Regions from separate parts of the Homo sapiens genome. Here region 2 is linked to region 1. A link means that fine-mapping ties the variant in region 1 to the expression of a gene that starts in the linked region. Tissue or cell type: whole blood. Region 1 holds a variant in brackets; the other region holds the start of a gene. All regions are shown on one strand. Distances are between the middles of the regions.

Evidence for each region. PIP is the estimated chance that this variant, and not a neighbour inherited with it, causes the effect.
Region 2: ARRB1 starts here. The variant in region 1 is fine-mapped to the expression of ARRB1 in whole blood (TOPMed, PIP above 0.99).

The regions. Positions count from the first base shown.
Region 1 is chr11:75,373,449-75,381,704 of GRCh38, forward strand. No RefSeq gene overlaps it. Among named protein-coding and RNA genes, the nearest start is that of RPS3, 22 kb to the right of the region's middle. RefSeq lists an enhancer at 7,733-8,256. The variant A/G (reference allele first, on the strand shown) is at 3,978.
Region 2 is chr11:75,347,878-75,353,659 of GRCh38, forward strand. It overlaps ARRB1 (arrestin beta 1), which reads right to left and starts at 3,784. Exons shown (of 16, transcript NM_004041.5): 1 at 3,711-3,784. The coding sequence starts at 3,730. RefSeq lists enhancers at 2,925-2,974, 4,037-4,992 and a silencer at 3,525-3,804.

The sequences.
Region 1 (8,256 bases):
TTTTGAGATGGAGTCTGGCTCTGTCACCCAGGCTGGAGTGCAGTGGCGCAATCTCGACTTACTGCAGGCTCCGCCTCCCAGGTTCAACCAATTCTCCTGCCTCAACCTCCTGAGTAGCTGGGACTACGGGTGCACACCACCACGCCTGGCCAATTTTTGTAATTTTAGTAGAGATGGGGTCTCACCATGTTAGCCAGGCTGGCCTCGAACTCCTGACCTCAGGTGATCCACCCGCCTCAGCCTCCCAAAGTGGTGGGATTACAGGTGTGAACCACCACAACTGGCCAAGACATACTTTTTTAATGCCTTCCTGAGTAAAGTAAGGGAAGCAGAGGGAGAAAACAGCCAGGCCTTAGAATGGCACCCTGTATCTGATGAAGAAAAAGCGCTGTGACTTCTGGAACAGGAGATGGGACCATCTCTTGCTTTCAAAGGTCTCTAAGGATCCACAGCCCTGTGGCTGTGAAGGAGACAGAGTTTGAAATGGTTGTCAGAAGTAAATCTTCAGACTTCCAGGAGTGGGGCCATTCATTCATTCAACATGGGTTTGTTTATTTATTTATTTATTATTTTTTGAGACAAAGTCTCGCTCTTGTCCCCCAGTCTGGAGTGCAATGGCGCCATCTCAGCTCACTGCAACCTCCGCCTCCTGGGTTCAAGTGATTCTCCTGCCTCAGCGTCCCGAGTAGCTGGGATTACAGGCACCTGCCACCATGCCCGGCTAATTTTTGTATTTTTAGTAGAGACAGGGTCTCACCATGTTGGCCAGGCTGGTCTCAAACTCCTGACCTAGGGTGACCCGCAGGCCTTGGCCTCCCAAAGTGCTGGGATTACAGGCATGAGCTACAGTGCCTGACGTTAACATGTATTTATTGAGTACCTACTCTGTGCCATGTCTTTGTTTGAAGGACTGGAGATACAACAATGAGTACGAGTTTAAGAATCCCTGCCCTCCTATGGAACTTACATTCTATTCAGGGAGCAGGAAAAAATTAATACATACAATTATAAATGCACTTATTCCTTGACCCAGCAACCTCATTTCTGAGGCTTTAGCCTAGAGCTTTATCGGCACCGTAAAAAATGATACAGGCACAAGGTTATTCATTGCGGTACTGTTTGAAATAGCAAAAGACTGAGCACAGCTTTCAATTTTGAACCACAAAACATATTATACATTCAAATCAAAAGGAACGTTTAGAAAATTGTAGTATAGGTTTTGTTGGATGGCGATAAATGTATTATGGAGAAAAATTAAGTAGGGAAGGAGATTCGGTAATGATGAGAGGGGACATTGCTATTTGAAAATGATTGTTAGGGAAGGCCTAGTGGAGAAGGCCCGCATGTGAGTAAATATCTGAAGGAGATAAGGATATACTGGGACATCCTTCAGGCAGAGGGAACAGCAAGGGCCAAGGCCCTGAGGCCTTTCAATGGCTGAAGAACAGCAAGGAGGCTAGAGTGAGCTGGAGTGGCCTAGTGGTGGGGAGAGGGTGTCCCAGCATTGTCCTCCAGCCGCTGGGGCCTGAAGGCTTGCAGCTGGGAGACTCATGGCCCTAAGGGACCACCACCATCTCCAGCTCCCCTGCCCACCTCCTAGTACTGCTTGCAGTGATGGCTTCCTCCTGGAAATTCTCTTCTCCGTTGGCCACCTGACGACAATCCTGAGGTCTCCCTCTGGGTACTTCTTCTTTTTTTCCTTTTTTTTTTTGAGATAGGGTCTCGCTTTGTTACCCAGGCTGGAGCACAGTAGCACAAACACTGCTCACTGCAGTCTCAAACTTCTGGGCTCAAGCGATCCTCTCGCCTCAGCCCCACAAGGAGCTGGGACTACAGGTGCGCAAGTCACCACTCCCAGCTAATTTTTGTATTTTGTAAAGACGGGGTTTCGCCATGTCGCACCAGGCTAGTCTCCTGGGCTCAAGTAATCCTCCAAGCTCAGCCTCCCAAAGTGCTGGGACTACAGGCGTGCATCACCCTGCCCCTCTGGCGGCCTCTTCTAAGTCTCCCTCACTGCCCCGAAGCCCCAAGCCTCCCGGTTCTGTCCTTGTCCTCCTCTCTCTTGCCGGCTGTTACCATTCCACCCTCCTCCAGGGCTTCTGCCCAGAGTCCGCTCCCAAGCCCAGACCCCACAGTTCTCCTGGCCTCTGGACATCTGCCTCGGATGTCTCAAGCATATTGGACTCCACGTATGCCCAGACCTGACCAAAGCACTCGCTGATCACCCCTCTGCCCCGCAGACCAGAAAGGTTCATCCTCTGGATTCCCACCGTGCATGCCTCCCCTCACAGACAGTGCTGATGGTTCCCCCTTCCTGCCTCCTCCATCTGCCCTGAGCAGGACCTGGCTTGGTCTGTTTGTTTGCTGAGGCCTCCCCAGCACCCAGCGCAGTGCCTGGTACACAGTGAGTCCTCAATAAACAAACTGAACAGGCCAGGCACGGTGGCTCATGCCTGTAATCTCAGCACTTTGGGAGAGAGGCAGGTGGATCACCTGAGATCAGGAGATCGAGACCAGCCTGACCAACATGGAGAAACCCCATCTCTACTAAAAATACAAATAAATTTAGCTGGGCGTGGTGTCGCATGCCTGTAATCCCAGCTATTCAGAAGGCTGAGGCAGGAGAATCGCTTGAACCTGGGAGGCAGAGGTTGCAGTGAGCCAAGATTGCGCCATTGCACTCCAGCCTGGGCAATAAGAGTGAAACTACGTCTCAAAAAACAAAAAAGAAAAAGAAAAACTGAACAAATAACTGCACAGCTTCAGTCACTGCCTCCAGCTTCTGAATCTGCTCCCCTCTGCTAGACCCGGGGGCCCGCCCTCCAGGGTCCCTAAGCTCTGGTTGGGGACAGCCCCACGGTCCAGCCTCACAGCTCTCCCACACTCAGAACCGTGCTTCTTGCAGGAGATTCCGATTTCAGGAGGCCACCGGCCCCTTGCATCTGCCCCCTGGAGGCTCAGTGTCGCTCTTTTGGTTTCAGTGATTTCTGCCTGCAGGGGACAGAGTGTGACTAGGTCATGGACACCCTTGGGAAGAACATTTTGAATAGGAGGAAAGAGAAGCAGAACCAGGCATTGGAGGGCCCCGCCTGTCGGGCCCTAAAGACCCATGGTGATGCCTCTCAGTGCAGCATCCTGATGTGTTTGTGTCCCACGATGAGACTGTAAGCCCTAGAGAGCGAGGATGGCCTCAGCTTCTCCTCTATGACTGGTGTCCTATGGCAATTGTTCTCAACACAGGGCAGTCCTCCACCCTCACCCCTAAGATTGCCAGAAAAATGCAGGCCACCAGGTGAAATCTTAGAATCAGATAAATAAGTACTTTTTCAGTATAAGTATGTTCTCTACTCAATATGTCATTTGGGGCATCCTTATACTGAAAAGTTATTTGTAGGAACATTCATTCTGTTTTATAGAATGAGGTGTTGTCCAATTCTAGAAAAAAAATTTGTTATATGTATGAAATACAAATTCAAATTTAACTGGGTGGTTTGAACTTTTATTAGCTAAGTCTGGCAACCCTATCCCTGGGTGACATTTGGCAATGTGTGGAGACACTTTTGGTTGTCAAACTGTAGGGGGGTGCGGGGTGCTACTGGCATTTAGTGAGAGAGGGGAAGGATGCTACTAAACATCCTGTAGGGCATAGGATACCCCCGCCACAACAAAGAATTCTCCAGACCAAAGTATCAATGGGTACTAGAGCACCCAGAACTCTCCTCCTCATACCCTTGACGCACCTGCCTTCCTACCCCCAAGCCATTGTGGCAAGAGACTCTTAAACTTACCACAGATGTTGGCTGGGCATGGTGGCTCATGCCTGTAATCCCAGCACTTTGGGAGGCTGAGGCGGGAGGATCACTTGAGGTCAGGAGTTCGAGACAAGCCTGGCCAAAATAATAAAACCCCATCTCTACTAAAAAATACCAAAAAAAATTAGCTGGGCATGGTGAGGCGTCCTTTCTGGACCAGCTCCT[A/G]CAGCCTGGTCCCCGTGCCCATGCAGAGGTAGCTGCTGCTGCTGAGCTGATGTTGAGCATGGCAGGGACAGAGTTCTATCTTCTGCTTGGAACTGACACTGGAAAATGGGATCCTGTGGTCATGGGGGCAGTGTATTCTACTAGATTCTGCTAAGTTGCTTTAAAATTAGCTGTATCGGCTGGGCACGGTGGCTCACACCTGTAATCCCAGCACTTTGGGAGGCTGAGGCCAGCGGACCATGAGGTCAGGAGTTCGAGACCAGCCTGGCCAATATGGTGAAACCCCATCTCTACTAAAAATACAAAAATTAGCCGGGTGTGGTGGCGAGCGCCTATAGTCCCAGCTACTTGGGAGGCTAAGGCAGAAGATCGCTTGAATTCAGGAGGTGGAGGTTGCAGTAAGCCTAGATCACACCACTGCACTCCAGCCTGGGTGACAGAGCAAGACGCTGTCTCAAAAAAAAAAAAAAAAAAATTAGCTATACCATTATACTCTACCACCAGCAAGGTATGGCAGGACTGACACCAGGCTTTCAAATGCTGGCAATCTGACAGGCGAAAAGTAGCATCTTATTGTTTTAATTTGCATTTCCCTTACAATGGTAGAGATCGAATATCTTTGGATGTTCATTTTTATTTTTATTTTATTTTATTTATTTTTGGTGAGACAGAGATTTACTCTTGTTGCCCAGGCTGAAATGCAATGGCGCGATCTCGGCTTACTGCATCCCTGGCCTCCCAGGTTCAAGCGATTCTCCTGCCGCAGCCTCCCAAGTAGCTGGGATTACAGGCATGTGCCACCACGCCCGGCTAATTTTGTATTTTCAGTAGAGATGGGGTTTCACCATGTTGCCCAGGCTGATTTTGAACTCCTGACCTCAGGTGATCTGCCCGCCTCGGACTCCCAAAGTGCTGGGATTATAGGCGTGAGCCACTGTGCCCGGCCTTATTTTTTTTTTTAATTTTTTTAGTATTTATTGATCATTCTTGGGATTTGGCAGGGTCATAGGACAATAGTGGAGGGAAGGTCAGCAGATAAACATGTGAACAAAGGTCTCTGGTTTTCCTAGGCAGAGGGCCCTGCCGCCTTCCACAGTGTTTGTGTCCCTGGGTACTTGAGATTAGGGAGTGGTGATGATTCTTAACGAGCATGCTGCCTTCAAGCATCTGTTTAACAAAGCACATCTTGCACCGCCCTTAATCCATTTAACCTTGAGTGGACACAGCACATGTTTCAGAGAGCACGGGGTTGGGGGTAAGGTTATAGATTAACAGCATCCCAAGGCAGAAGAATTTTTCTTAGTACAGAACAAAATGGAGTCTCCTATGTCTACTTCTTTCTACACAGACACAGTAACAATCTGATCTCTCTTTCTTTTCCCCACATTTCCCCCTTTTCTATTCGACAAAACCGCCAGCGTCATCATGGCCCGTTCTCAATGAGCTGTTGGGTACACCTCCCAGATGGGGTGGCGGCCGGGCAGAAGGGCTCCTCACTTCCCGGACGGGGCAACTGGGCAGAGGCGCCCCCCACCTCCCAGACGGGGCGGCAGCCAGGCGGGGACTGCCCCCCACCTCCCGGACGGGGCATTTTTTATTTTTTATGTTTTTAAAATTTATTAACTCATATACCTGCACATCATACAACAGTCAAAAATCATCAGTGAGCCAGGAACGGTGGTTCACGCCTGTAATGTCAGCACTTTGGGAGGCCGAGGCAGGAGGATTGCTTGAGCTCAGGAGTTCAAGACCAGCCTGGGCAACATAATAAGATCTCATCTTTACTTTAAAATTTTTTTTAATTAGCCAGATGTGGTGGCACATGCTTGTAGTCCAGCTACTTGGGAGGCTGAGGTGGGAGGATCACTTGAGCCCAGGAGGTCAAGGCTGCAGTGATCTGTGATTGCACCAGTGCACTCTAGCCTGAGCAACAGAGCCAGACCCTGTCTCAAAAAAAAAAAAAAAAAAAAAGAGTCAGTAAAAAGTAAATCTCCTTTCCATAGATCTGAAGCCAGCTCCCATTGAAAGACCGTGTCTGAAAGAAGTTTCTGGTGTTTCCTTCCAGAGATATTCAATGCATATATAAGCACTTGGATGTACAGGCTTTCCTTTTGGTTTTTAAACAAATTGTCAACCAGGCATGGTGGCTCATGCCTGTAATCCCAGCATTTTGGGAGGCCGAGGTGGGCGGACCACTTGAGGTCAGGAGTTCAAGACCAGCCTGGCCAACATGTTGAAACCCCATCTCTGCTAAAAATGCAAAAATTAGCCAGGCATGGTGGTGGGCGCCTGTAATCCCAGCTACTCAGGAAGCTGAGGCATGAGAATCACTTGAACCCGGGAGGTGGAAGTTGCAGTGAGCCGAGATCATGCCACTGCATTCCAGCCCAGGCAACAGAACAAGACTCCAAGACTCCGTCTCAAAAAATAAACTAAACTAAACAAATTGTAACATTTTCCACAGTGTTCTGCACTTTTCTTTCTTTCTTTTTTTTTTTTTTTTATGAGACAGGGTCTTACCCTGTCATCCAGACTGGAATGCAGTGATCTTGCCTCACTGCAGCCACAACCTCCTGGGTTCAAGCAATCCTCCTGCCTCAGCCCCCCAAGTAGCTGGAACTATAGGCATGCACCACCACACCTGGCTAGTTATTTTTTTTTCTATTTTCTGTAGAGATGGGTTTTTGCCACATTGCCCAGGCTGGTCTTGAACTCCTGGGCTCATATGATCCTCCCGAAAGTGCTAGGGTTACAGGCATGAGCCACTGCACCTGGAATTTTTTTAAATCCTGGAAAATGGCTTATCCCAATACACATAGAGGTATCTCATTATTGTACATGATTCATAGTATCCCATCTGATGGACACAGTACAATTTTGAACAGTTCCCTAGCGTTGGACATTTTGGTGGCTTCCAATATTTTGCTATAGTGAATATTTTTGTGCATATACAATATCTCACCTATAGGAATGTATTTGCAGGATAATTTCCTGGAAGCACTAGAAGCGCAACTGCTGGGTCAAAGGGCAAGTGTATTTAAAATGTTCAAGGTTATTACCAAGTTGCCTTTCACATCAATTCACTGTTTATGTCATTTTATGATCATACAGAAGCTTTTTTTAAATTCAGAGAAAAATATAACACAGTCATTGTCTTTGATAATAAGAAACCAGCATTTATGAAGCATCTACTGTGTATCAGGAACTTTACACATATTGCCAAAAACACTCAGGACCCCTCTGAGGCACAATGAATTAAGTATTTTGTTCGAGGCACCCACAAAGGAGGTGGCAGAACCAGAAACCAAGCCACGGTCTGTCAGGATCCTCAGCTTGGGCCTGGGCTTGCTCCTTGTCATCATGCAGAAGCTGACACCCTGGTATGAGGAACTGGATTCCAGCATAACTCACAGTGATGTCACATGACAGGTGTCTGCATGGAGGCCTGAACCAAGAGCTGGAACACAGACCCAGAGAACAGGGCAGGTCGGGTGGCGGTGGGGTAGCTGAAGGGGCTTCACAGAGGCAAGAGCCTTGAAGGTGAGGCCTAAGGGTTGGAGGGAACAGATTTTGCTGGTGAAAAGTAGACAAGGCTGCTCAGGGGAAAGGGATCCACAAAGACATAGAGGCCTGAAAATCAACTGGGGAAAGAAGAGCTAGTGTGCACAGAGCAGAGGTTGGTCTGGGGCTGAGGCTGGAAAGGTGGGGTGCAGGCAGCGGGTGAAGAACCCCTTGCAGGCTGCTCTATGGAGCTTGGGCCTTCCAGCGGGAGGCTGCTCATCTGGGAGGCTGGACAGGGCACATGGCATGGGGTGGAGCTCAGACTCTGGAGCTAATCTTACCTCCACCCCTTCCTGGCTCTGTGCGCTGTCTCCTCCTCTGTGAAACAGAGAATCTAATTCATAACATTGTGGGAATTAAATGTGCTAAGACAAGTTTAAAAAATAAAAAACACTGGCTGGGCATGGTGGCTCACGCTTGTAATCCCAGCACTTTGGGAGGCCGAGATGGGCAGGACGGGTGCATCACGAGGTCAGGAGATGAAGACCATTCTGGCTAACACGGTGAAACCCCGTCTCTACTAAAAATACCCAAAAAATTAGCCAGGCGTGGTGGCAGGCACCTGTAGTCCCAGTTACTCAGGAGGCTGAGGCAGGAGAATGGCGTGAACCCGGGAGGCAGAGCTTGCAGTAAGCCGAGATTGCGCCACTGCACTCCAGCCTGGGCAACAGAGCGAGATTTCGTCTCAAAATAAGTAAATAAATAAATAACACCTGAC
Region 2 (5,782 bases), 27 kb before region 1:
ATTTCTCAACTCTATCCTCTCTGCAGCCTAAGTTCAGAGCTCACAGCCTTAGTTCTCAGGTTTCTCCCCAGCCTCCTCACTGGTCTTCCTGCTTCTAGGCCTGCTCTTCCCATCCACCCTACTTGGCGCTGCCAAAGACATCTCTCTGAAATGAAAACATCTGCTTCCAGCCCTCTGCTGCCTCACACTCTTCTCTGAATCACCATCCACTTCAGGAGAAAATGCTCTCTCCTTAGCCTGACATTCCCAGACTGCTGGTGACCGGTCTGTGTTTACCTCTTAAGGCTCACTATCATCCCCAGCCCAGGCCCCAGGCTGCACGCCTTGCTTCCTGCCTCCAAGCCACTGCACATTCTGCACCCTTGGCCAGAAATATCATTCCCAATCCCGCCCCCTTGGCCTATTCATCCTTCCAGATGAAGCTCAGTAGTTCCAACGCCACCTCCTTTCCAGGAGAGCTTCCTGTACCATGCTCCCTGCCTGGGCCTGGGTTGGGGACTTCTCCTTAAGCCTCCCACAACACATGTCATCCTGCGTTATGACCACCTGCTCTGCTCTAAATCCCTGGAGGACAGAGTAGACTCCTTCCTTGCTGAATCCCCAGGCCCTGGGCACTCAGAAGGCACTCATCAACATTTGTTGAATGAATATATGATTGTTCCCAGAGCACCTTGCAGCAACCATCATACTCCTGCCCTGTGATTAGTCCTGTCCAGGTATTTTTTTTTTTTATTTTTTCAGACAGGGTCTCACTCTCTCATCCAGGCTGGAGTGCAGTGGCATGATCATGGCTCACTGCAGCCTTAACCTCCAGGGCTCAAGTGATCCTCCCACTTCAGCCTCCAGAGTAGTTAGGACTATAGGCATGTGCCACCACACTCAGCTAATTTTTGTGTTTTTTGTAGAGATGGTATGTTGCCCAGACTGGTCTCGAACTCCTGAGCTCAAGCAATCTGCCCATCTCAGCCTTCCAAAGTTCTAGGATTACAGGCGTGAACCACCGCGCACAGCCCTGTCCAGGTATTTAACACCTCTTTCCCCCTTGACCCTGGGAGTTCCTAGAGGGCAATGACAGTTTGTGATAAATTTTCATTGTCACTTTCACATGGGGGTGCAATTCCAGATGGAGGGATGGTTGCGATGATTCCTGATGTTCAGTTTTTGATATCTGCAGATTCCTCTTCTAAGTCATAGGTACTCATGCCTTACGGAAAAAGACAAGGTACAGCCCATTACTGATTTTGCCCTTCTTTTCCAAATTACTTAGCCAACTGTCCGGAAAGGGACAGAAAGGCCTCATGGGGCTGCAGGAGAGTCTGAAGGGGAGGTCTGGGCCACCATCAGGTGGATTTAGCCGGGCCTTGGCTCCAGGCTTCAGGCAGTGCCTCTTCCCCTGCCCAGTGAAGTCAGTAAGTACAAGGGAAGCCCTAAAATGTAAGTATTGATAGCTCCAGTTTACAGATGGGAAACTAACGTCCGGAAAAGTAAAGGCAATTGCCCAATGTCCCAAAGGTCCACCAGTGAGTTTGAGGCAGGGCAGGGGGAGCCATGGAAAATACCTTGGCCTCAGAGACAGGGTCTCCAACAGGTGCCTGGAAGCCCATGGTGTCCACATCTTCCTGACAATCATGTCAGCAGGACAACAATGACACTTATCCCCCAAGTCACAGAGAGGTACAGAGAGACCCAAGAGAGGCTGAGTCACTCCGATCACAAGGCAGCCTAGGAAGGACAATGGAGTGGAGAATGGCTCCGACTCCCTGCTATGCCCTGCAGGAAGAAAAGCCTGACCTCATGGGTCAAGAGGGTCTTAATTTCAGGGCAGATGGATGTGGCTGGGGAAGGAGTCACATACCTTCCTACTGAGGACAGAGGCCTAGGTCACAGTGCTGGCCAGCCAGCTGCAATGGGGACTAGCCATCAAGGTTCATGCAGACACAGCATGATCTTCTGCCGTCCCCCCCAAAGCCTGGGCCTCCAGCACAGAGCAGGGCTCCCCTCCCTGGCCCATGAGGGGCCTGGCAGTGCCCTAGGGCCATCCACAGAGACATGACCAAGTGGACTCCAGCCTCCGCCCTGCCTCTGGCCCCTTTTGACCTTAGGCAAATCACATGGCCTCTAGCCCTCTGGTTCCTCTGCTAGAAAACAGGAAGAGGAAAATTAACCTCCTGGAAGAGCTGTCAGGAGGATGGCTGGAAAGTAGTTTCTAAACATTAAGAGCCTGAGTTGCCTCTGAGCCTGTTTCCTCCTCTAGAAAATGGAAATAATCTCTGCAAGCCCTTTCTCACACTGTGGAGAGAGAGTCTTAGATGGCAGTGGGTGAGAAATAGCTTTGTCAGTGGCCCTGAAAGGTGGTGCCCACCGGGGTGGTGTCTCTCTAGTCTGTTAGCTCCTTCAGGGGAGGAGTGGGCCTTGCGCATCTTTGATCCCCCACACTACGCCTAGTATACAGCAAGAGCTTAATAATAAATGGAAACGAGGAGAGGGGAGGGGAGGAAAGGAAGGAGGCAGAAGTCGGACACAAGAATAGAAGAGAAAGACAGAAAACAATGAGAAAGAGGGGGAGCCCAGGGAGAGGCTGCTGTGCCCACTTAGGGGGTGGGGAGGGCAACGGGGAAAATAGGGTGGCAACGCTGAGCCCCTGACCAGCGCTGGTCCTGTCTGAAGGGCTGCCCCCAGGGGCTGTCCTGCTCCAGCCCCCTCCTCCTTTTGTCCCAGTTTCCCCTTTCAGAGGCAGAGACTGTTTCTGAGTATTTCAGGACAGGTTCTAGGAGAACGGGAGGGGTTCTCCCAGCCCTAGGTTCAAAACAGCCCCTGGCCAGCCACTCCTCAGGAGGTCAGAGGGAAAGGGAACAGAGTAGATGGATGGGATCTATTTGGATGAAATGCGATCTGTTTTCCCCAGGCTGGGGGTGGCGGGGGGCGCTCTACCCTGTGTGATGTGTGTGTTTCCACTTCTGGCCATGTGGGGCCTGAAGCGTGTGTGTCAGCGGGCCTTGGGCTAGCAGCTCGTGCCTGTGGGGTGCCAGTCTTTGAGGGCATCAGTCTGATTGTGTCTGTGGGGGTCAGTGTTGGTGTGGCCTTGCGCTCCGCTGTGTTGGTGAGACATGCCAGCACAAGTGTGTGTGCCAGTGAGGGTGATGTGTGTGCCAGCAAGAGTGTTTGCTACAGCGAGTGCAGGTGACAGTGTGCGTATCAGTGTATGCCCACACGTGTGTGCCAGCACGAGGGTGTGCTAGAATTGGTGTGTGTTGGATTGTGAGCTGTGCATGCCAACAAGGCTGTCAGCAAGAATGTGTTGACCGAGGCGTGTATGACGGCGTGCCACTGCGTGTGATGAGCGTGTGCTAGCGGTTGCCAGTGTGTGCGCCAGCATGCCTGTGCCACGGGTTAGTGTGCCCGTGCGTGTATTGTGTGTCAACCTGCCCCCGTGCGTCTCTGCGGCTGCCGGCCAATGCTGGGTGTCAGCGAGCTGTGTGTCCGGGCCAGGAGCTGCGGCCCACATGGGGCGGCCCGGCCCTCGCCCTTTGGGTCCCCCCGCCCACGGCCCTGCCGGGGAGACCACACAGGAGACCTCGGGTGGAGGAGAGCTGGTACTAGATCCCGCGGTGGCCGCGAACGCAGAACCAGGACGCAATCGGAGCCCCCGCCCGTGTCCTCGCCGAGGTCGCCCCCACGCGCCCCCCGCCGGGCGGCCGCCCTGCACTCACCGGGTCCCTTTGTCGCCCATGGTCCGCGACGGTCGCAGGGAGGTCCGCGGCGTCAGCGCCCAGGCTGGAAAATCCCCAGCCAGCAGGAGGAGCGCGGGCCAGCCCGCTCCCGGCTCCCTGCTCCGCCTCCTCCGCTCTCCCGGCCGCCGCCGCCGCCCCCGCCCCCGGTCCCCGCCCGCCGCCCGCCGCGTCGAGCAGCGCAGCGCCCGGGCCGCGGCCAGGGGCGTGGAACCGCGCGGGGTGTGTGCGTGTGTGTATGTGTGTGTGTGTGCGCGTCTGCGTGTGCGCGCGCCGCCCAGCGAGGCAGGGCAGCGCGGCGGGACGCGTCAGGGCCCCAAGGTCGGCGTTTGTGGTGGGGGAGGGGGTCCACCCGCGTGCGAGTCCGTGTGAGAGTGTGTGTGTGTGTGTGTGGTGGTGGTGGTGGTGGTGTGGTGTATGTGAGGGCGCACGGCTGTGTGCGGGCCCTATTAGGGAGTGTATTGGTGTGGATGGAGGAGTGTGCACGTCTTTGTGCAGTTGTGCGTGTGTGCGCACGGCCGTGGGTGCGAGCGCGCTCTCCCGCGCATGCCGGGGCAGCCTTTGTGTGTGCGGGTGGTTGGAAGCCGAGGGTCTGGCGACCCCGAGGCCGCGCTCCCTGCGGCCCCTCGCTTAGCTGGAGACCCCGGGATGCCTGGCAAGGCCTTCGCCCTGTGCTCCACCCTTCCCCATTCCACCCACCCCACCCCCTTCTACTGGAGAGATAACACCCAGCCACACAACAGGGACAGGAAGAAGGGGCGGAGGGGGCAGTAGACGGCCTTGACACTGGGGAACTGAGCGGAGACCCGCGGCCAGCAGGGGCTGCAGGAGGCCGCCCAGGAAGAGGAAGCTGTGAGAAGTGAGAAGAGGCGATAAAGGAAGAGGGCAGAGCTGGCCCGCTGCTGTGACCGGGTAGCACCGTGGAAAGCGCCCATGCCCAGCTCCATGGCTCGCTGTGGGTGACCCTGTGCACTAAGCTTCTGAGAACCCATGTCCGGACCTGTAAAGTGAGGATACACTAATATCAGCCTGCAGAATTGTTAATAGGTTGAAAGAACTCGCTTGTGTTTGCTGGCCTCCCCTGAGCGCCTGCATACAGTAGGTGCCCAGTAGATGTTAGCCCACTTCTCTGCAGGCTTCTTGATGTCCTGTGAAATCTTGGCTGGGACCCTGCTTTGTCTGAGGTGCCTTCCTGCTTTGCAGGTAGTGGGAAACGGTAAGGTCTTTACCACACCCTCACTACTGAGATTTGGCTAATTATCCCGGATAGGTCCCTGATATCTAAGTATTAAGGGGAAAGTAAGCTATCATTTACTCTGATGCTGTTGTGAGTATGTAAACATCTCCTGTAATTATGCTCAGAAGCAGTTACCTATACTGTTTATATGCAGTATAATTACTATAATTATGTCCAGATTTGGCAGAGGGGCAGGGGGAGGCTGATGGGTAGGCAGGGTGGCCCACCTCTGGGCAATGTTAGGAGCTAGAGAGTATGGATGAAAGCCCAGAACCCTCCTCCCAGTCTTGGCCTCTGGGTTTCACCCTCTACAGAGGAAGAAGAGGAAGCCACCTGTTGTTTCTGCAGGGCTCAGAGATCTGGAAAGGAGCAGACTAGAATCTTCTTTGATGACAGGAGATCCCTAACCAGGATGGTGAAGCCAGGTCCTGCCACTCTCCACATCAGTTTCCCCACCTGTAAAACAGGTTTGACCAAACCATAAGATCTCCAATGGATCTCTCCATGCTGATGCCCAAAACATCTAAATATATTTATTTATTTTATTTATTTTTGAGACGAAGTCTTGCTCTGCCACCCAGGCTGGAGTACAATGGAATGATCTTGGCTCACTGCAACCTCTGCCTCCTGGGTTCAAGAAATTCTGCCACCTCAGCCTCCCCAGTAGCTGGAATTACAGCCACTGCCATCATGCCCAGCTAATTTTTGTATTTTTGTAGAGATAGGGATTCACCATGTTGGCCAGGCTGGTCTCGAACTCCTGACCTTAGGTGATCCACCCACCTTGGCCTCCCAAAGTGCTGGGATTACAGGCGTG